2 linked regions of the Homo sapiens genome follow. The protein of the gene in region 1 purifies or fractionates together with the protein of each later gene. This does not show direct contact. Each region holds a gene or a part of one and is shown in the gene's direction. Other genes may lie near its edges.

Region 1 (11,513 bases):
TGTTGGTCAGGCTGGTCTCAAACTCGTGACCTCAGGTGTTCCTCTTACCTCGGCCTTCCAAAGTGCTGGGATTACAGGTGTGAGCCACCGCACCCAGCCTCAAATTTTTTAAAAAAAATTACGTGTGATGGTGCATACCTGTGGTCCCAGCTACTCAGGAGGTTGAGGCAGAAGGATCACTTGAGCCCATGAGATTGAGGCCACAGTGAGCCTTGTTTGTGCCACTGTATGCCAGTCTGGATGACAGAGCAAGACCCTGTCTCAAAGAGAGAGAGAGAGAAATTTATAAAGAAAACATCTCTTTTTTTTTTTTTTTTTTTAAAGTCAGGGTCTCTGCTCTGTCACTCGGCTGGAGTGCAGTGGTGCAATCATAACTCACTGTGCCCTCAAACTCTTGGGCCCAAGTGATCTTCCTACTTCAGCCTCCCAAGTAGCTCGGACTACAGGTGCATGCCACCATGCCCGGCTAATTGTTGTTGTTGTTGTTGTTGTTGTTTTAGCGATGGGGGTCTCCTTACATTGCCCAGGCTGGTCTTGAACTCTTGGCCTCAAGCGATCCTCCTGCCTGAGCTTCCCAAGTCACTGGGATTACAGTCGTGAGTCACTAGCCTAGCTCACATCACTCTTATATATGGTAAAACAGAGTATTCAGCAGAGCAAAATTTAAAAATATAGAGAGAAACAGCAATGTTTCCAAATAGTCAATATGGCTACATGTTAATTTCAGTCAAAAAGCAACCAAACAAGAAGAGGGCATGGAAACCCATAGAATTTTGTTCTAAAATCCTTGAAGTTGACTGTGGAAGTAAAAATGTTCTACACACATTTTTAGAAGTTTATAAATTATATGACTTGCAATTTCATAAAATTCTGAGTGAACGTTGTGTCTAGGACAAAACAGATCCCTGATCAACGTATTATATTTGCACAAGGCCCCTAATGTCACAGATATTAGTCACTAAACAAAACATTTGTCTATGGCAGAATGAGTAGATTCCAATTTAGGGCCAAGTGCAGTGGCTCACGCCTGTAATACTAGCACTTTGGGAGGTGGAGGTGGGCAGATCACTTGAGGCCAGAAATTCGAGACCAGGCTGGGCAACATGGCAAAACCCCTTCTCTACAAAAAAATACAAAAAAAATTAGCCGAGCATGGTGGTGTGTGCCTGGAATTCCAGCTACCCAGGAGGCTGATGTAGAAGGACCACCTGAGCCAGGGAAGGTCAAGGCTGCAGTGAGCTGTGATCCCACCACTGCATTCCAGGGACACCAATTCCAAAAAATAAAAAATAAAAAAGATTCCAATTTAGTATTCTGTAAACCCAAGACCCTAGCCACTCCTACTATGCAAGCTTTACATAGAACTCTAACTTTCATAGAGTTTTGTGTGGGAATTCTTGGGTTTCAACTTGGCACATCATCTATGTACTTTCTAAAGCGTGAAATTAATCCAGACACTTACAAAAAGTTATTCAAATGATTGTATTTACAAAAATGGCACAAAGTGAATTAAATAGTCTATGCACATGCATATATATATTTGAACTCCATAAAACATTATTATTATTGTTCTATACAATTAATATTAACTTAAATTTGCCCTCATATTAATCCTTTACATTACTATTCATTCTTTCATCTGTGAGTTTCCATCTGGGATTATTTTCTTTCCTACAAACTTATCCAACAATTTTCTATTGTTGTTTGGATATTTGTGTATTTTCATGTATACATATATAAACATAATACTTTATTATATTAATTATAATAATTTATTATTGTTCATGTGGTCAATGTTCACTTTTTTTTTTCTTGAGACAGGGTCTCACCCTGTCACCCAGCTGGAGTGCAGTGGCACAACCACAGCTCACTGAAACCTCAATCTGCCAGCTCAAGCGATCCTCCTTACTCAGCCTTCCGAGAAGCTGGGACTAGAGGCACGTGACCATGCCTGGCTAATTTTTGTATAATTTTTGTATTTTTTTGTAGAAACAGTGTTTCACCATGTTGCCCAGGCTGGTCTCGAACTCTGCCCACCTCATCTTCCCAAAGTGCTGGGAATACAAGCGTGAGCCACCACGTCCAGTCCAATGTTCACTTTAAATTTGCTCACGTCTTTGCCTTTTTTGTTGGGCTTCTTGCATTTCTAGGTTTCCATGTGGGTAAATTTTTTTTTCCTGCTGGAAGGATACTCTTTCATATTTCCTTTATTGTCTGTCTGCCGATGACAAATTCTCTCAAGTTTTTGTTTCTAAAAATGGCTTTGTCTTATCTCTATTTTTAAGGAGTATTTTTGCTGGGTATAGAAATAGATTGGCAGGGGTTGGTCTCTTTGTCAAACTCTAATTGCATCTGATCTAATTTCCAGTTATCAAGGAAACTATACTTTTGATTCTTCCAGGGAAAAAGTAAACACAATGAATATTTCATTATATTTGAGTGAACATAAATTCTACATTTCCTAAACTTGGGAATAGTAATATATAACTATGGAACCTCATTCAGGAAAAAAAAAAAAAAAAAAAAAAAACCCCTCCTTATGCACCCTTCTAGTATACACAGATCAGAATAAATAAAGGGAATATCAATATTTGGAAGTTTAAAAAAGCAAGAAGTCACAAAATGCAGTCAGGAAAGTGGGTTGAATTGGCAAGATGTAGGGCTCAAAGCAAAACCTTGGATGTTTGTTGCAATTCTCCAAGTTTTTTTTTTTTTGAAACAGAGTCTCCCTCTGTCGCCCAGGCTGGAGTGCAGGGGCGCGATCTCGGCTCACTGAAAGCTCTGCCTCCTGGGTTGACGCCATTCTCCTGCCTCAGCCTCCCAAGTAGCTGGGACTACAGGCGCCCGCCACACGCCCGGCTAATTTTTTGTATTTTTAGTAGAGACAGGGTTTCACCGTGTTAGCTAGGATGGTCTCGATCTCCTGACCTCGTGATCCGCCCACCTCGGCCTCCCAAAGTGCTGGGATTACAGGCGTGAGCCACCGCGCCCAACCGCAATTCTCCAAGTTTTAATGATGGTTCTTTTTTGTCTCCTTACTCTCTTAAACACATTCATCCGTTTCAACAAGTTTTTTTTTAACAAGTTATTTTTTATTTTATTATTATTTTTTTAAAGCTCTGGTTAGTGCTAGATACTGTAAATCCTGATTAATCAGACATGGACTTAGCTTGCAAGGAGCTTCCAACAGAGACGTTAATAGGTATACAAATACCAGTAGCAGATTGAGACAGCCATAACAGATGCATAGACAAAGATTATTTCCTGTTAAGAGGAGTGAACAATTATTTATGGGGAATAAGGAGACTAAGAGAGAAAAGAATCAGAAAAAAGCGCCTCCAGGAGGCAGCATGTAAGCGGTACCTTTCAGAAAAGAAACGGTCGTGCCAAGATAATTACAAGTGACAGATGACAAGCTTTTCTGGGAAACATTGTCCAAGAAGGAATAGGCAAGAACTGCAGTCAAGCAGAATTACATATGCAAAAGAGCAGTGAGAAATAAGAGAAAATGGCAAATTGCAGACGGCCCTGAATGCTGGGCTAAGAAGTCTGGCTTGAGATAAACGTCCAGCTAAAGCAGGTCTGAGCGTTTTTTCCAGAGAGGTGAGGGAGAAGGGCACGTATCTATTAGGTTGATGCAAAAGTAATTGCGGGTTTGCCATTATTTTCAGTGGCAAAAACCACAATTACTTTTGCACCAATTTATTTATTTATTTTTAAGACAGAGTCTCGCTCTGTTGTCCAGGCTGAAGTGCAGTGGCATGATCTCAGCTCCACTGCAACCTCCGCCTCCCCGGCTCAAGTGATCCTCGTGCTTCAGCCTCCCGAGTAGCTGGGACTGCAGGCATGCGACATCACGCCCGGCTAATTATTTTATTATTTTATTATTTTTTATTTTTAGTAGAGACGGGGTTTCACCATGGTGGCCAGGCTGGTCTCGAACTCCTGAGCTCAGGCCATCTTCCCTCCTCGGCCTCCCAAAGTGCTGGGATTACAGGCGGGAGCCACCGCGCCCGGCCTACCGTCCTACGAGGTAGGCATCAGGATCCCTCCACAGCGAAGGCGCCCCCACTACCTATCTGTCTACAGGCGTGCCTTTTACGGGCTGTGCTATGGACAGCACTTGGGATGTCAGATTGACCACTAATAAGGTAGATCCGTATACACTGCTGCGGGGCTGAGTAACTGGTAGAGGGTCCCACAGTTAGAAAGCACCTGGACCTTGGCTGGAATTGGCGGAAAGTCCAGGCAGCGGAGAGGCGCGGTCCCTGGGACTGGGTGCGCTCTTGGCACCAGGGTCAGGGCCCACAGGCTCCAGGAAGCCCACGCGCTCCGCCGGGTCGCACCAGGTTGGCTGTCCGAACGCAGCCAGCTGGCGGGGCGGGGCCTTCCAGCTGGGGGCGGGGTCTTGACAGCTAGGGGGCGGGGCCTTGCAGCTGGTAGGGTGGGGCGGGCCGCGGGCTGTGGGCTTTGGGAGGGGTGCGGACTAGCAGAGGCCGAGAGCGGCGAGCCGCGAGCCAGGCAGTCCGGGGCATCCAGACTGCAGGCCGCGCCCAGGCCGCGCCCAGGCTGCGCCGCCCGCCTGCCTCCCGCGCTGCCGCGTCGCCAGTGCTAGCGCTCCTCTCCAGCATGCTGCGGCGGGGCAGCCAGGCGCTCCGGCGCTTCTCCACTGGCCGGGTGAGTCCGGCCCGGGCGAGCGTCCCGGCTGTCACCCTGTCCTGGTTTCCAGACTCCGGGGCGGGAGGGCCGGGGCGGTGGGGCTGGGGATGAGCAGCGATGCTTAGACTTTGCTAAACACCAAGACAGCGTTTAAAACAAACAAACAAACAAACAAAAACAGAGAGACCTCAGAGGAGGGCTTGGGGAGGGTCCCGGATGGGAACTGGCACGCAGGCCATTGTCTTCTGCCGGGAGGGGGCTGAGGATGCAGTTTTTGGACGTGTCAAGTCTGGCTGGGATGGCAAGGTGGGAACAGTCACTTGGTAAGGAGGACAGAGTCTGCTTCCTTTCCTTTTTCACTTCAATCATGAGATCCCTGGTCAAGAGCTGGAGCCATATGGAACCGAGACTGTCTCCTGGAGGAGGGGAGTATCAAGTCAATAGGGTCCTCGTTGGCGGCCTGGGAGGTGTAAGCGCTCGAGACTGGCACGCAGGGCCGGTTCAGATAATGGCACTCAAAGCTGATGGCTGCAAGCTCAGTATTCCTGAGCTGAGCTGCAGATGGCAAAATTTCTAGAATTGCCAGGCGCTGCAGAGGCAGCCACGCTGGAACACTATTCTACTGTAGCACAAGAACCGAGCTCTGGCCCAGCCCCGCGCCTTGGAATTGCATCAGCTCCTCCAGAAATGGAACCGAGAGAGGACACGTTGCACTGCGGTGCTGCCTTCAGCACCCAGGGGGCCTCGGGACTGTTTAGGGAAGAGAGAGAGAGAAAAAAAAAAAATAAAAACTGTCTTATGTATCGTATCTTTTATAGGAAGTACATAAAAGAATTTGCTTATCGATTCTTTTTCTCGGCCATGCCAAAGCCATATGTACATATGTATATATTCAGATGTAAAAAACTTGGAGGCAGAGAGAAGTCTTGAGTAGCACCAAAAACTGGCCCAAACTTGCATCAAAGGAAAAGCTTTCTGTATCCCAGACAACCCCAAATAATAAGAATTCGTTTTACTCTTTGCAACCAGTTCTAGTTACTTTGAGGTATAGTCACCTTTTATAAAACGAGGGGTGGGGGTGGGGAAGACCTGCTCTGCTAGGACTTTGGCCTGCTCTCCTGGACCCCTCATTAGCTTCCCCCACCACGTGGCACATGGGATCCCAGATGGATAGCACAGAAAGCAACGGGCTGTGCCCAATGCCTGAGCCTGTTTTGTTGGCCTCCTCTGTCAACACCTTTCACTGACTTGTCTTTTTTGGTGACCAGAAGGAAGTCTTGCAGAATGAAAAGATTTTGATAGTGCGGTTTGCATAAGATTTCAGTAATAAAAGGTAAACATCTCAGGTGGCAAATGGCATAAACAAAACTATGGATGTGGGGAAGAACTGGCGTGATCAGGGTCTAACTGTACGCAGGGGTGCATATGGAAAAGCAGTGATACTCATGGCTGGGAAGAAGACAGTTTCCTCAGTGGTCGAAAGGAAGCTACTGAGTGGTGAATGAAAAATGTGGGATGTTTTATCCTGTAGAAAATGTTCTGGACTGTGTTTTATAAGAATTATTCAAAATCAAACAGATACATGGCTGGTGGAAATATAAAATGGTACAGCCACTTTGGAAAACTGTTTGGCAGTTTTATATGTAGTTAAACATAAACCTATCATATGACCCCGGAATCACACTCCTAGGTATTTACTCAAAAGAAATGAAACCTTATTTGCCCGCATAGAAACCTGTTTATTGATGTTTCTAGAGGTTTTATTCATAATTGCCAAAAACTGGAAATAAATTGTCCTCAGCTGGTGACAGGATAAACAAGCTGTGGTATATCCATCCATACAATGGAATTCTACTCAGTTGGGGGAAAAAGGAATGAACTACTGATGCATACAACATGGATGGAACTCAAATATGTATGCTAAGTGTAAGAATCAGACTCATAATGCTACATATTTTATGATTTCATTTATCTGACATTTTGGAAGAGTAAAACTATAGGGACAGAAAAAAGATCAGTGATGTCTGGAGCTGGAGATAGGAGGAAGGATTGATTATAAATAGGCATAAAGGAATTTGGGCGGTAATGGAACTGTTCTACATCTTGATTATGGTAGTGGTTACGTGACTGTGTGTTTGTTAAAACTCACAGCACAGTACACTGAAGAGGGTGCATTTTACCCATGCAAATTATCTTTTAATTTTTATTGTTTTGAGACAGAGTCTCACTTTGTCACTCAGGCTGGAACGCAGTGGCACAATCTTGACTCACTGCTACCTCTGCCTCCGGGGTTCAAGCAATTCTCCTGCCTCAGCCTTTTGAGTAGCTGGGATTACAGACATGCACCACCATGCCCAGCTAATTTTTGTATTTTTAGTAGAGACGAGGTTTTGCCATGTTGGCCAGGCTGGTCTTGAACTCCTGGCCTCAAGTGATCCTCCTGCCTCGGCCTCCTAAAGTGTTGGGATTACAGGCATGAGCCACTGTGCCCGGCCTAATTATCCCTTTATCTTTAAAATTTAAAAATCAAACAATGCTTTTAAGTTTAGTATTAAAGCAGAATGAAGGATGAATAAAAATAAAGCTTTCAGAACCTAGCAAAATCCAAGGGGAAAATTAGTTTATAACACTTCTTGATAGAATTCATTTCTCCATCCTCTGTCTTAAATAAAAGGACTTAGAAATACTTAATGATTTCAGCTTAGTGATGGCTGGATCTTTTTAACTAAAACAATGGTTTGCTTTAAAACCCTTTGTCAATTAGATATTATTGCCCACCTCTGATATCCTGCCTGGCTCACTGCTTCTTCTCCCTGTGGTAGGAGTTATTTAGCCCTCTATTCATTGACATTCCTTTGTTTAGCTTTCTCTGCCAGTGTCTGGGTCAGGTCTGTCTGGTAGCTCTGGGTTTATAGCCTGGCTCCAGGTAACTTGAGGTTACCTTATGATCCAGTCCAAAGAGGTGGGACCCTTCCTTGCTCTTTGGAACCAAGTACCTGCTTTATTTCTCAGTTCTAGGAACCAGGTTCTTGTTTCATCATTGCCCGACCTCTGCTCTGGTGTCTTATCTGTTCATAGGATCTCCAAATTCAGCTTTAAACTGTATTTAATTGTCTGTTATACACTGAGGACTCTAAATCCTGAGGATATAATATTAATAGATGCATTAATAAATGCTTTACATATACAATTGTCCCTTGTTGTCCCTTGTATTCATAGGGGATTGGTTTCAGGACCTCCCGTGGATATCAAAATCTGAAGATGTTCAAGTCCCTTATATAAAACGGGTAATATTTGTATATAACCTGTGCATATTCTCCTGTATACTTTAAATCATCCGTAGATAACTTATAATAATGAATACAAAGTAGATGCTATGTAAATAATTGTCCCACTGTATTGTTTATGGAATAATGACAAGAAAAATTATACATGTCTAGTACAGATGCAATTTTTTCCAAATGTTTTCGATTCATGGTTGGTTGAATCCACGGATACAGAACCCACAAATACAGAGGGCGACTGTGTACTCCTTTAATCCTCATGATATCTCAATGAAGTAGGTACTAGGTTAAGCATCCCAAATCTGAACATTTGAAATCTGAAATGCTTTAAAATCTGAACATTTTTGAGCACTGACATGACACTCAAAGGTAATGATCATTACAGCATTTTGGATTTCAGATTTTCAGATTTGGGATGCTCCAATGGTAAGTATAATGCAAACATTCCAAAGTCTGAAAATATCCGAAATCTGAAACACTTCTGGTTCCAAGCATTTTGGATAAGGGATTCTCAACCTAGATTATTATGACCATTTTGCTGATAAGAAAACTGAGACCCAGAAGTGAACTAACTTTTTCAGACTCTCATAACCCAAAAGATAAAACAATAAACAAGAAAGAAATAGTCCCATTTTCAAGGAGTTCATAGATTAGTGGGACAGACTATTAAATCTATGTTTTTAGGAAAAGAATAATAATACATAATACACTAACTAAAATGATATACCAAAAATGAAATATAAATGAGCAATAAAATATGAAAATACACTCAACCAAACTAGTAATCAGGCAAATGCAACTTAGAACAAGATACCATTTTTCACTCATCAGGGTGGCAAAAATCATAAATTTGACGATATTGTGTGTTTAGCAGGGGTGAGAAAACAGTTCATCCACTACTCTAGAGGTCAATTTGATGCTACATATTTAAATTAAATTTATGTTTAAAAATGATCCTGCAGTTTCACTTGTAGGTATCTGAGAAAAATACTTCTACATGGGCACAGGAAGCATGTACCATGATATTCATTGCCATGGTATTTGTAATAATGACATATTGAAAGCCAAAATGTTTCTCAATAGGGACATGAACAAATAAACTGAGATATAGCTACACTAAGGAATACTGTGCAAGAATTTCAAAGAATGAATTATATGTACGAACAAGGAAAGTTGTGGAACATTACGCATAATATTATTTCATTTGAATTATTTTTGGAAATACAAAACAATACTTTTTGTATATATTTCCATGTTTTTAAATGCCTAGGAAAGGTCTGTAGAATTCACACCAAACAATAGTAGTTTCCTCTGGGGAGTGAGAAGGGGATGCAGATTGGGAGTGATGGTCAAAAGGGACTGTAGTCTTATCTGTGATCTTTTCTTTTCGTAAGGAGCTTGTGTGTATATGTAATATGTATAATTAAAAATTAATTTTAAAAATTTTATACAATTAAAATATTATAGTAAATTCTGTGCATGGAAATCCTGCCTCTCTAGTACTGGAGTCCGTTTCTGGACTCGAGCCCTTTGGACTGTCTCTCCCTTTACTCAAAGTCTTTGAAGTGTTCTGTGGTCACCAGCCTCGGCCCAGGAGCTCTCTCCAGCCTCTGAGTCCTGGGCATCCCCCTCTGGCATCACCTGCTCATAGGCCCCTGTACTGACATCCCTCCTTTTAAAATATTTTATCCTTTTTATGATGAAAAAACAAAAGTTGGCCAGACATCCAAGAAAGCCCTCACTGATATCTTCTTTATATAATGAGGCAATAGGAACATCAAGTTGCGCAAGCTTGCCATTTAGGATGGTATCCTGAATCTTGCAGATCTACCTCTATGTAAAGTGTACTTGTTGCTTCTGTTAGTATGAGAGTTTGTTACAATTGGTTGCAAGAGCTTTCACACTATTCCAGACTATATCCTGTGACTATGCTACAGGTGGATTGCTAGGTCAGCTTTGATTTTCACGCTCTGCTCCATTCTCAACACAAGAGGTGTGTCTACCCGGAGCTAGTTCATGCCTCCAGAGTTACCTAAGCAGTCTATTAGCATAGAAACTAGACTCTCCTGGTTTCAATTAACTCTCCTGCTTAAAGCGGCTCAGTGAATCTCATTGTCTTCACAATAAGGTCCCAATTATTTGACACAAAGCGCTCCATAATGTCTCTTGCTACGGTGTCGCTTGTCACCACTCCTTAACTCCCAGTATTGGACACGCTGTGCACATGCATTTGTTTCTTTGTAAATACCGCACCCTCTGCCTGGAACTTCCCAAGCCTCTCCCTTTTCTCTGCCAACTCCCAAGATGGATTCTCTAAGATTCAGCTAAGTAACTCCCTTCTGGAGAAGGCTTCTCGTCTCTTAACCAAACTGTGCTCTCTTATTCTAGCACTGTTACTATGTCTTAGCTTGTGTGCCCTCCCTACTAGTTGGTGGATTCCCGAGTACAGGGACTGCTTCTTTTTATCTTTAGTGTAAGGGTCGCAAAGAGAAATTCCCACAGAGGCCAAACAGGTAAAGCAAATGAGAGATTTGAGCTGCATAGAGGGCAAGACCATGTCTAGGGTAAAGGGGCCACCACTGCTCAGCGCTAGCTGACTGTTGCTATACGGCGCCACAGACCAGGGTTGACAAACCTCCTGAGTTTTTTTGATTTTTGTTTTTTGAGACAGAGTCTTGCTCTGTCGCCCAGGCTGGAGTGCAATGGCGCGATCTCAGCTCACAGCAACTTCTGCCTCCCGGGTTCAAGCGATCCTCCTGCCTCAGCCTCCTGAGTAGCTGGGAATACAGGCACGCGCCACCATGCCCAGCTAATTTTTTTGTACTTTTCATAAAGATGGGATTTCACCATGTTGGCCAGGCTGGTCTTGAACTCCTGACCTCAGGTGATCGGCACCCAGCCAAACCTCCTGAGTTTTAAAGACAAGTTAGAAGTTGTGCCTTCTGAGGTGCAACCTCCTAAAAATCTTAACAGAGTCCTCTTAAAAATGCTTTGTGGGCCAAATAAAACACCCCTGCCAGGCCAGTAATGTGCCACCTCTACCATGCACTACGCCCAGAGTGTGGCAAAGCCTGAAAACATGCTTGTTGGATGAGTCTTGCACAGAGTCAGGCACAGTTTGGGGCACTCTGTGCCGGATGCTCCATGAAGTGTTAGGCACCTCAGGGTCTCAGGAAAATGTACTTTGTTTTATTCTTTTGTGTGAAGGTCCTCTGTGTGAAACTGCCAATTCTTACTTGGATAGCTTTGGCCTTACTTTACACCCTGCCCAGATGGTTCTATTAGCATCTGGCCAAAGGGCTTCAGATCAGGGCAGACTCTTCGCACTGTGCCTTGAAGTTTTCTTTGGAAAGCTATGTGTACCTTTTTTTTTTTTTTTTTTTAATTCTTGGAGCATAGTCAGGGTCTGTATTAACTTGCTTCCTGAAGAATTCCACCAGAGGGTGGACAGCCTGGGAATGCATTATTTGACAATTTGGAAAGCAAAGGCTCTGCTCCCTGCAAAAGTCTCCTCTAGTGAAGAATGTTCTCTCTAAAGAAACAAGGTCGGGCGTGGTGGCTCACGCCTGT
Region 2 (10,906 bases), on another chromosome or scaffold:
CACTCAGTCATTCCTTAGTTTTGAGCACTTACCATATGCTATGGATATGGAGATGAAAGCCCTCAGATAATTCTCCATCTTATAAGGAAGACTCACAGCGTGATAGTGTGATAAGTGAGACTTGCGTAACACGCTGTGAGAAAACAGAGGAGCTGCATATTGCCTGGTTGTGAGGAGAGTCACAGAAGTCTACAGTTTCAAGACTAGTAGACAGTAGTTAGCCAAGTAAAAAATTGACAAGGAGCATTGCAGGGAAAAGCAAGAATATACACAGAAGTAAGTAGCGTGCCATAAAGATGGCTAAAGATGGGACACTTGTAGGAGTGATGAAATAAGAGGCAGCCAGAGAGATTCAGCTGTCTGTCCTGAAGTTTTGTAAGATTACGAAGGAGTTTGGATTTTTTTTTTTTTTAGACAGAATCTCACTCTGTCGCCCAGGCTGGAGTGCAGTGGCATGATCTCGGCTCACTGTAAGCTCCACATCCTGGGTTCACGCCATTCTCCTGCCTCAGCCTCCTGAGTAGCTGGGACTACAGGCACCCACCACCATGCCCAGCTAATTTTTTGTATTTTTAGTAGAGACCGGGTTTCACCATGTTAGCCAGGATGGTCTCGAGCTCCTGACCTCGTGATCCACCCGCCTTGGCCTCCCAAAGTGCTGGGATTACAGGTGTGAGTCACCGCGCCCAGCAGGAATTTGGATTTTTGAGTAGGAGATTGATGTGACCATATTCGCGTCTTAGAAAAACTCTGGCAGCAGTGGAGGATCTGCTGAAGAAATGCAAGACTGGAGGCAGTAAGATCATTTAGGAGATTTCTGCAGTAATTTTGGTGGGAAATTCTAAGGGCCTAAAATAAAGCTGGGGCATGGAGAAGTCATGTTTAAGAGCAGCAAAGAGGTAAACCTGATAGCCTTTATAGTGATCAGTATAAAGGAGAGTAAGAGAATAGAGTGACTCCAAGGTTTCTTTTGGTGTAATTGAATGACAGTGTTTCCAGTTATCAGAGGTAAGCATCTGTGAAGTCAGTGAATTTTTAAGTTTTCAACATGCAAAATCTGAGATGCCTGTAATATATTGCATTATAGTGATCCGGGCTTTAGGAGATAGGTCAGGATTAGAGATAGAGATTTGGAGTCTTTTTCTTTTTTAAATAATAGCTTTATTGAGATACTCATACCATAAAATGTACTGACTTAAAATGCACAATTCTGTGGCTTTTAGTATATCCACAGTTAATGCAGCCACAATTACAATGAACTTTTTTACCTCAAAAAGAAACCCTATATCCACTAGCAGTCATATTCCATTTCCCCCATTTCCCTCATCCTTTGGCAACCACTGACCTACTTTCTGTGTCTGTAGACTGGCCCATTCTGGGGATTTTATATAAATTGAATCATATAATTTGTGGTCTTTTGTGCATGACTTCTTTCACTTAGGATAATGTTTTCATGGTTCATCTGCGTTGTAGCATATATCAATACTCTGTTACTGATGAATAATATTCCACTGTAAGGATGTATCACATTTATTTTATTGATGGACATTTGGATATTTTGTACTTTTTGCCTGTTACGAATAATGCTGCTTTGCACATTCATGTGCAAGTTTTGTGTGAACCTGTGTTTTCATTTCCCTTGAGTATGTTTCTAGGGGTGGAATTACTGACTCATATGGTAACTCTGTTTAACTTTTTGAGGAACTGCTGGACTGTTTTCCAAATTAACATTCTCATTAGTAGTGTATGAGGAGTCTAATTTGTCCAAATCCTCACCAACGCTTGCTGTTCTCTGTTCTTTTGATTATAACCATCCTAATGGGTATGAATTGATTCTCATTGTGGCTTTGGTTTGCATTTCCCTGATGGCTAAAGGTGTGGAGTATCTTTTCATGTGCTTATTGGCCATTTGTATATCTTCTTTGGAGAAATGTCTATGCAGGTCCTTTGCCCATTTTAAAATTGTATTATTTATCTTTTTATAATTGAGTCGTAAGATTTCTTTGTATACAGTAGTCCTCCCTTATCCAGAAGGGAAATGTTCCAAGACCCCAGTGGAAGCCTGAAACCCTGGATAGTACTGAACCCTATATATATTGTGCTTTTTCTCATACATACTTACTTATGATAAAGTTTATAAACCAAACCCTGTATATACTGTTTTGTCTCATACATACTTACCTATGATCAAGTTTATAAATTAGGCATAATAAGAGATTAACAACAATAACTAATAATAATAAAGGAGAACAATTATAACAATACATCAGCATTACTACTCTTGCACTTTGGGGGCATTATAAAGTAAAATAAGGGTTACTTGAACATAGCACTGAGATATCACAACAGTTGATCTGATAATCAGTATGGCTACTGAGGGCAGGTGGTGTATACAGCATGGATGTTCTGGACAAAGGGATGATTTATGATTAAGGCAGGATGGAACAGGACAGTGGGAGATTTCATCATGCTATTCAGAAAAGCGCATAATTTATGAATTGTTTATTTTTAGACTTTTTTGTGTCATATGTTTGGATTGATACATGATTTGCAAATATTTTCTCTCAATTTGTGGGTTGTCTTTTTACTTTCTTGGTGGTGTCTTTTGAAGAACAAAACTTTTTCATTTTGATGTAGTCCAATTTATTATTTTGTATTGTTGTTGCTTGTACTTTTTGTGCCATATCCAAGAAACCATTGCTTTCTCCAATATCAAGAAGATATATACCTTTGTTTTTTTCTTAGAATTTTAGAGCTTTAGCTTTTAATCCATTTTGAGTTAATTTTTATATATGATGTGAAATAGGGAAAAATACTATTAATTTTTGTTTATTGATCATATCCTGTAATCTAGCTAACTTCACTTAGTAGATCTATTTAATAGTAATTTTGGGTAAATTTTTTTTAAGTAGACAGTCATGTCACTGCAAGTGACTGCAGTTTAATGTTTTCATTGATAATCTGTGTGTCTTCTATTTTTCTTGCCATGTTGCATTGGCTAGGACCTCTACTACAATGAATGGGAGAGTAGTGAGAGGATACTCTTGTCCTGTTCCTGAGCTTAGGGGGAAAGTATTCAGTCTTTCATCAAGTCTGATGTAAGGTATAGGGTGTTTTGGGAAAAATATATTTACCTTCTCTTTCCCTCTCTGTTTCCTTTCCCCTACACTGCCCCTTGGCATTTCTGGAGCTTTTATTTCTTTATGTAGGTCCAAGTTTCAGTCTGGTATTATATTCCCATCGACTGAAGAATTTACTGTAAGTTCTTAAAGTGCCTGTCTAATATTGGTTGATTCTCTTAGCTTTTATTTCTCTGAGAAAGTATTTCACCTTTGTTTTCGAAAGATAATTTTCAAAGGATATAGAATTCTGGGTTTATAATTTTTTTTTCTAGTAGTACTTTACAAATATCATTCCATTGGCCAGGCATGGTGGCTCACACCTGTAATCCCAACACTCTGGGAGGCCGAGGTGGATGGATCACCTGGGGTCAGGAGTTTGAGACTAGCCTGGCCAACAAGGCAAAACCTCATCTCTACTAAAAATACAAAAATTAGCCAGGCGTGGTGGTACACACCTGTAATCCCAGCTACTTGGGAGGCTGAGGCAGGAGAACAGCTTAAACCTGGGAGGTGGAGGTTGCAGTGAGCTGAGATAGTGCCACTGCACTCCAGCCTCGGCAACAGAATAAGACTCTGTCTCCAAAAAAAAAAAAAAAAAAAAATCCCTCCACTATCTTCAAGCTTACATAGTTTCTGATGAAAAATTTTTGTTTTTGTTTCTCTGCATTATATCTTTTTTCCTCCGATTATCTTCAAGATTTCCTTAACCTTGGTTTTCAATAGTTTGATTATTAAAATATATATATATATGGCTTGGAGTTTACCTAAATGGAATTCAACATATACATATACAAATATATACACATATACAAACATATATATACACATAGAGACAGTCAATTCTTGTTATTTGTGGTAGCTATATTCTGTAAAGTTGTTGTATACACTGAATTAGTGAATACTGAAACTTTGTTTGCTCCTAGGGGTTAGGTTCTTGTGAGGCTCTGGTCACAACATTTTCATCAACTGATCAATAGATAACCTTGCTTTATATGTGTTTCCGTTTAAAGACATATTAATATGTCAGTTGATCTATTAACATTGAACTCATAGCCAACAACACATGCCTGAGCAAAGATTATCACATATATATATATGTATGTATTTTTTGCAAGACACATCACAACTTCTCATACTTAGAAACGGTAGGCAGTATGCTTGGGGACCTATTTAAACAGTGAAGTCACCAGCAAAAGGAACAAAAATGTGAAAAATGTGGTACTAAATAAATCATGAGATGAACACTTGTTTTGCCATTGGAAAAGCTAAAGCAAGAATTCTTGTTTGACTTCAGCTGGGAACACACATGTATGTTCGGTGACATTTTTTTCACCATTCTGCACTTGTCCACAAAAGCACTGCAAGTATTGATTTTGAGGTTGCAAATTATAGTGAGTAGGTAAATTGACAAATACAGAATCTATAAATAACTAGAATGGACTGTGTACACATATATACACTATACATATTCTATTCATACACATTCTATACCTATGAACTTAAACATATACACATACAAATATGCATACACACATACATATGCATATATACACATACCTCATTTAAAAATTTTTGCCTGAGCAAAAGATCTATTACAGGAAAACCTTAAGGCCTGTTCACGCTCATTTTCAGAAAACGTTGTTTCCATCTTTTTCATGAATACTACTGCAATTGGTTGGCTTACTTTCCTACCTTAGCATTATATATGAGTGTATTTATATCTGTACACATATATAGGTATATACATTTATATGTATTTATAGATTTGTGGTATTTAAATCTACTTATTAAACAGACCTTGGACACTGTACTAAGTCTGAGAATAGAAATGCAAACAAAGACCACATGGTGTGCCCTATGGAACTTACAGTTGATGGACTCATGAATAGGCAAAAAGAATGTAAATAAAATAAGTACAAATTGTGTAGTAGTAAATGCTTTGAAGAAAATAAGCAGGATACTGAGAAGAGAGGGGTGGTAGTGACCAGGGAAGGCCTGACTCCTAGTGAGGACTATGAAATTTTTCCCTTATTCTGTCAGTATTCATTGTTCAAGAATTTAATCAGATTTGCCCTGGAGTTCATGTGTTTTTTATTTTAAAAATTCTATTGTTAATCATGTTGCTATAGGCATGAAGCATTTTTTTTTTTTTAGAGAAAAACTTAATGTTTTGTGAAAGAGAGAGACAGCTAGAGTTTTTTGTTTGACTTTGCCTTCTCCTGACTTTCCCTCTGCAAGGTTTTTGTGTTTCTAAGTTGTCTTCTTTTAGTTAGGAGACTAGAATACAGAAAAACATTCTGCTAAATATGATTTTAGGTATTTTGTCATAAATTAGATCTTAGGAAAACTGATTTTCAAGGCATCCTGGGGTTTTAACCTAAATTTCCCAAAATATTAAGGCTGTGAATCATTTTTCATCACAGGATCTTTGTGATGTGTCAAAGAAAACAATTTTGTAACTGCAGTTAAAGATATCTACCAAAGTAACACAAATGCTGCCTTCAAAATGAAAACCAGTTTTCTGTTTATTCTTGCTAAATGTTTATGTAATATAAATGTAGTATGGGTTCTGGTTGATGTTTTGTGAAAATTATGTTCTGTTTCATCCAGCGCAAGTATTTACTTGATCTGATTTCTTCTTGATACAGGTTAAATGGGCCAGGGAAAACTATCACCATAACATTGGCTCACCATATTGCTTACGGTTAGCTTCTGCTGATGTCAATGGGAAGATCATCGTCTGGGATGTAGCAGCAGGAGTAGCTCAGTGTGAGATCCAAGAGCATGCCAAGCCTATCCAGGGTGAGGAAAGTCTGCTCAGCTAAGTGTGTATATTGATACACTTACTCTTGGAGTGGTTTTTTGGTTTTGGGGGTTTTCCCCCATTCATTTAATTTTATCAATTCCAAGTTAGCTCTTGATTGTGTTTTGCCTATTCTGCTGATCTAAATCTGGCTTTCTGTCCTTACTAATACACTTCTAGGCATATTTCTTCAAATCTCAACTGATTTGTGCTTTGGTAAAACTCATTAATTGCAATATCAGCCTCATTCAAGCATGATAAGAAAAAGTAAGTGGTACAATCTTGTAATCTAAGCTACAATATAAGGAAAATTGGCCACTGCTGTTAGGAACTAGCCATCAGTGCTTACTCTACATTAAGTAATTTGTTCATTATCAGAGATGAACAAAATTTTATTCTCATTTTCATATAGATTGCTTGTTTGTTCGTTTCATGTTACTGACCTAAAACCAGTACGGTATTCTTTTTTTTTTTCTTTTTTTTTTTTTGAGATGGAGTGTCGCTCTGTTGCCCAGGCTGGAGTACAGTGGCGCTATCTCGGCTCACTGCAAACTCTGCCTCCTGGGTTCACGCCATTCTCCTGCCTCAGCCTCCCGAGTAGCTGGGACCACAGGCACACACCACCACACCCAGCTAATTTTTTGTATTTTTAGTAGAGACGGGGTTTTACCATGTTAGCCAGGATGGTCTCGATCTCCTGACTTCGTGATCCACCTGCCTCGTCCTCCCAAAGTGCTGGGATTACAGGCGTGAACCACTGCGCCCTGCCCAGTACAGTATTCTTTAGACTTAAGTCCTCCAGTGGCTCTCTTGACTGAATGAATTTTTTAAATGACTATTTAAAAAATATTTATTAAATACTTACTGTGTACTAGGTACTGAACTAGATCTTTGCATATTCTGTTTATTTTTTGAAAAACCATGAAGAACTGTAAAGTTCCATTAAGTAATTCCACAGAAACATTAGGAAAGTCTGACATCTTGGTTGTGGCTAAGAGAGTTTCATATTGATTTTATAGTTTTAAGTAATGATTAGGGCAAATTGCCTTTTATTTTCTTTGAAGTAATATTTCAGATTACTTCAAAATTTTTACCTTGAGAGTTTAACCAGACAACTTATTTTTATATAGAATTAGTTTTTTCTCTGGAATATTGATACACACACACACACACACACACACGTCACATTTGGGGCTGGTGGTTAAGTTTTTAAAGATTATATTTTAAAAACTAAATATCAAGGACAAGTTAGCCAAGGACTTTGGAGAGTGTGGTTTCTGAATTTTGCCTTTCTTTATCGGGTCTTTCCAGATGTTCAGTGGTTGTGGAATCAAGATGCTTCCCGCGATTTACTGCTTGCTATCCACCCGCCAAATTACATTGTGCTCTGGAATGCCGACACTGGCACCAAACTATGGAAGAAGAGCTATGCAGATAACATTCTTTCTTTTTCTTTTGACCCTTTTGATCCCTCACATTTAACTTGTGAGTAACAGTTGCTTGTGGAAAATGAGTTAAGTGAGATATTTATAATATAGTAATGCTATGTGCATGAGATATACACACACATTATACATCTATAATGTTAAAATGACTGAGCGAAGTGGAGAAGCATGTCTAGTCCATATATCTGCAGCTCCTAATACACATACTCAATCATAAGTTCATATCATTGCAAATATGATAAAAAATTAAATCAGCAAGCTACACCTTCACTGTGTTGAATTTGTGAATAGTATTAGACTAGCCAGGGACAGAGAGTTACTTTGACACTCCAGACTTAATTAGTTCTTCTAAGAACATTTAAATAACTTGAATCAAGGGTTTCATTCAGTCTGTGGCCAAGTTAAGTTCTTGCTTTTTAATAAATTGTCCTAATTCACGCCATTCATTTTGAGTGCCATAAACAGATGCATGTAAAGAAGAAATAAGCCTAAGCAAGTTTTTTCTTGCAGAGATAGTTTTTGCTAATATGCTTTTAATGTTTTCCTGAGCTAATGATCTAAAAATGAGATGTGCTTTAGGTATTTTTGTGGCTAAATTGTTTAGAAACTATTTAATCATCCAACAGATATTTCTTGAGCTATTGCTACTCTTCTGGGAACCAAGATGTCTCAGAACCCAAAAGGCAGGAGCCTTCACAGAGTTTGCATTCTAGTGAGAAGAAGTCATATCATAAACTGTGACCACAATGAATTAATAAATTCTAGTGTAGTAAGAGGTGACAGGTGATATAAAGGCAGGATAAAGGGGATGCAGAAGAATGGGGGATGAGGGCATGCAAGTTGTATGAGATAAAGTGGTCAAAGTAGGCTTCACTTTGATAATGATCAGAAATGTGAAGGAGGTAAGGGAATTAGCTATGGTAAGGAATGTTTTTCCTGGATTTGAATGACTCAAAATTGTTTTACCCATCAACTTTTATTGAGGGGTGTGTGTGTGTCTGCACGTGTTAAAGGAGGAAGAGAAAGGCAGACAAAATTGAAATTATAATAACATGGGAAATGTGGCTGTGTAAATACACTACAGGGTGCTTAGGCTTTTATGTATGTAAATGTTTGTATATGGACGTGTGCATACATACACTCACTTGGTCACCAGTTTACTTACTCACATAGGTGCAGTGCTGGGGAAACACCTAGGAGGGCTGGCCCAGTTGGCAGAGTCAGGGAAGGAGGGCATCACAAAAGAAGGAAGCAAAGGGGACCTTGAAGGATGAGTTCTGGAACCTGAAAAGGCAACAAGGCTTTCAGCTAACTTGATTGCATCAGCTCTTTACATCTCTGTAATTTGGTTGATGAAAGCATTGTGTGTTCCAGAGTGTCAGTTGACCTAACATCTTTGATTTACTCATATTGAATGTGCTAGGGTTGTCATAACTCTTGAATGCATCCTTTTTCCCTGTGTTTAGAGCAGCCTTGCTAAGGGCTGGGACCCAGGGTAGTAAGGTTTTTCTGCTCATGTCTTCCAGTATTAGGCCCATTGTTGAGGGAGATTATTTTTTCAGTCATAAAAAGGCATAATTTGTATTGCTAAATATGGTGCTCCCTCCTTGACTATTTTTGTTTCATGTACACTTAGTAAGTCACTGTGGGCCCACTACTGTTTTCTAAATATTAAGGGAAAAGAATATTCCTTAATCATCTTAAGGTTCGATCTGATGCTTGAGAAGAAAAAGGGAATATATTTAGACTGAGTAGCTCAGGATAAAAATTTGGTATCATCAAATAAAATATATGAACTTAGCTAATTGTGATATGCAGAGCCTCTTAAGTATGGTTTTTTGTTTTTTTAAGTTATGGGATATGTTAAAGTTTTTTTGTTTGTTTGTTTTTTGTTTTTGTTTTTGTTTTTTTTTTTTGAGATGGAATCTTGCTCTGTCACCCGGGTTGGAGTGCAGTGGCACTATCTCGGCTCACTGCAACCTCCACCTCCCAGTTCAAGCGATTCTCCTGCCTCACTCTCCTGAGTTGCTGGGATTACAGGTGTGTGCCACCACGCCTGGCTAATTTTTGTATTTTTGGTAGAGACGGGGTTTCACCATGTTGATCAGGCTGGTCTCGAACTCCTGACTTCATGATCTGCCTGCCTCTGCCTCCCAAAGTGCTGGGATAATAAGGAAAGATTTTTAATGAAAGTCCGTGCCCTGAATTTATTTAGAAGAACAAACACTTGTTCTTTCTGCCAATAACCTTATGTTATCTTTTTAATATAAGACATAATATAGAATGCCAAGCTTGGAGGCCTCTGATGAATTGTAATGGACCACCTGTTTCTCTTCAACTTAGAGAACATTCCCATTATGTTATGAATGCATAACATTGCCAGTTATATATTATTAAAATTATCACTATATTGCTCTCAAAATTGTATTGGAATAAAACTGTATGCTAAACTTCATTAAACTTTAATCAGAGTTTTGCTTTTCTCAATATAGTGCTTACCAGCGAGGGTATTGTTTTCATCTCAGACTTCTCCCCATCCAAGCCTCCCTCAGGCCCTGGGAAAAAAGTTTACATATCCAGCCCACACTCTAGCCCAGCTCATAACAAGCTGGCCACAGCCACAGGTGCCAAGAAAGCTCTAAATAAAGTAAAAATTTTAATCACTCAAGAGAAACCTAGGTAAGTTACAAGTGTAAAATTAACATTCATCTACTTATCTGGTATGAAAGCATCATTTTTGGAGATGTACAAAGACTGATGTTTTTCTTCATCTCACTTTTTCTCATTTCTAATTTTGAATTTATTAGAGGAAAAAAATATTTATTTTTGTCCCCTGCCCTAAGAGGAGATTCAGCATTTAACATTGCCTTTGTTTCCACTAGCTGTGCTAAACTTCCCCACTGACTTTTATAGATTAAAATTTTTGAATTCTGATTTTTACTTGTGAAAATCGCAATGATCCTAAAGTTCAGGCAATTGAATGCATTAAAAATTTGGGCACAAAAGCTGGATACTCATTTTAAATACATTTTCCTGACTTAGGTGCTGTGCATTCTCATTCAGCAGTAAAATCGGAGTGTTTTTCTTATGCAGGTGAAGATGTCTCCCATCCTGGTTAAGAGCCAAGGCTCCGGGGGAAGCTTTAGCTATGAGACTGAGAAACTTCTTTAATCTTACTCAAATTTCTCTCTCCCAGTCTCTAAAATAAGGCTTTAAAGTATTTCATAGGGTTGTTTTAAAGATCAATAGATCCAATAATGTAAGTAAAGCATGTAATGTCATTGATACATAGTAATTTATTTAGAAGATGTCGGCTGTTATTAAGAAATTACAACTGAATAAAAGTTTATTTTAAGTAATTTGATGTATTCAAAATAGGTTTCTTTCTTTTTCCTATAGCAATAATCTGTATATTATTGCTTTGGCAGGCTTTTTTGTTTGTTTTGGCATTCATTTTCAGATAGCCTTTATTTTTAATATGCCAAGATTACTCTCTCTAGGCTTGGTGAGTAACTACTTGAAAAATATGTGGTAAA

The links.
Region 2: the proteins of ALDH1L2 (region 1) and WDR11 purify together in Homo sapiens (affinity purification with mass spectrometry; 3 studies listed by BioGRID and IntAct, with this or other methods). This does not show direct contact.

The regions. Positions count from the first base shown.
Region 1 is NC_000012.12:105,077,553-105,089,065, reverse strand, and holds the start of ALDH1L2 (mitochondrial 10-formyltetrahydrofolate dehydrogenase precursor), read left to right. Parts: upstream 1-4,607; 5' UTR 4,608-4,629; coding exon 4,630-4,677; intron 4,678-11,513. UniProt on the Homo sapiens protein: Mitochondrial 10-formyltetrahydrofolate dehydrogenase that catalyzes the NADP(+)-dependent conversion of 10-formyltetrahydrofolate to tetrahydrofolate and carbon dioxide.
Region 2 is NC_000010.11:120,852,873-120,863,778, forward strand, and holds part of WDR11 (WD repeat-containing protein 11), read left to right. Parts: intron 1-2,879; exon of another isoform or gene 2,880-3,258; intron 3,259-5,770; coding exon 5,771-5,924; intron 5,925-7,236; coding exon 7,237-7,410; intron 7,411-9,862; coding exon 9,863-10,049; intron 10,050-10,906. UniProt on the Homo sapiens protein: Involved in the Hedgehog (Hh) signaling pathway, is essential for normal ciliogenesis.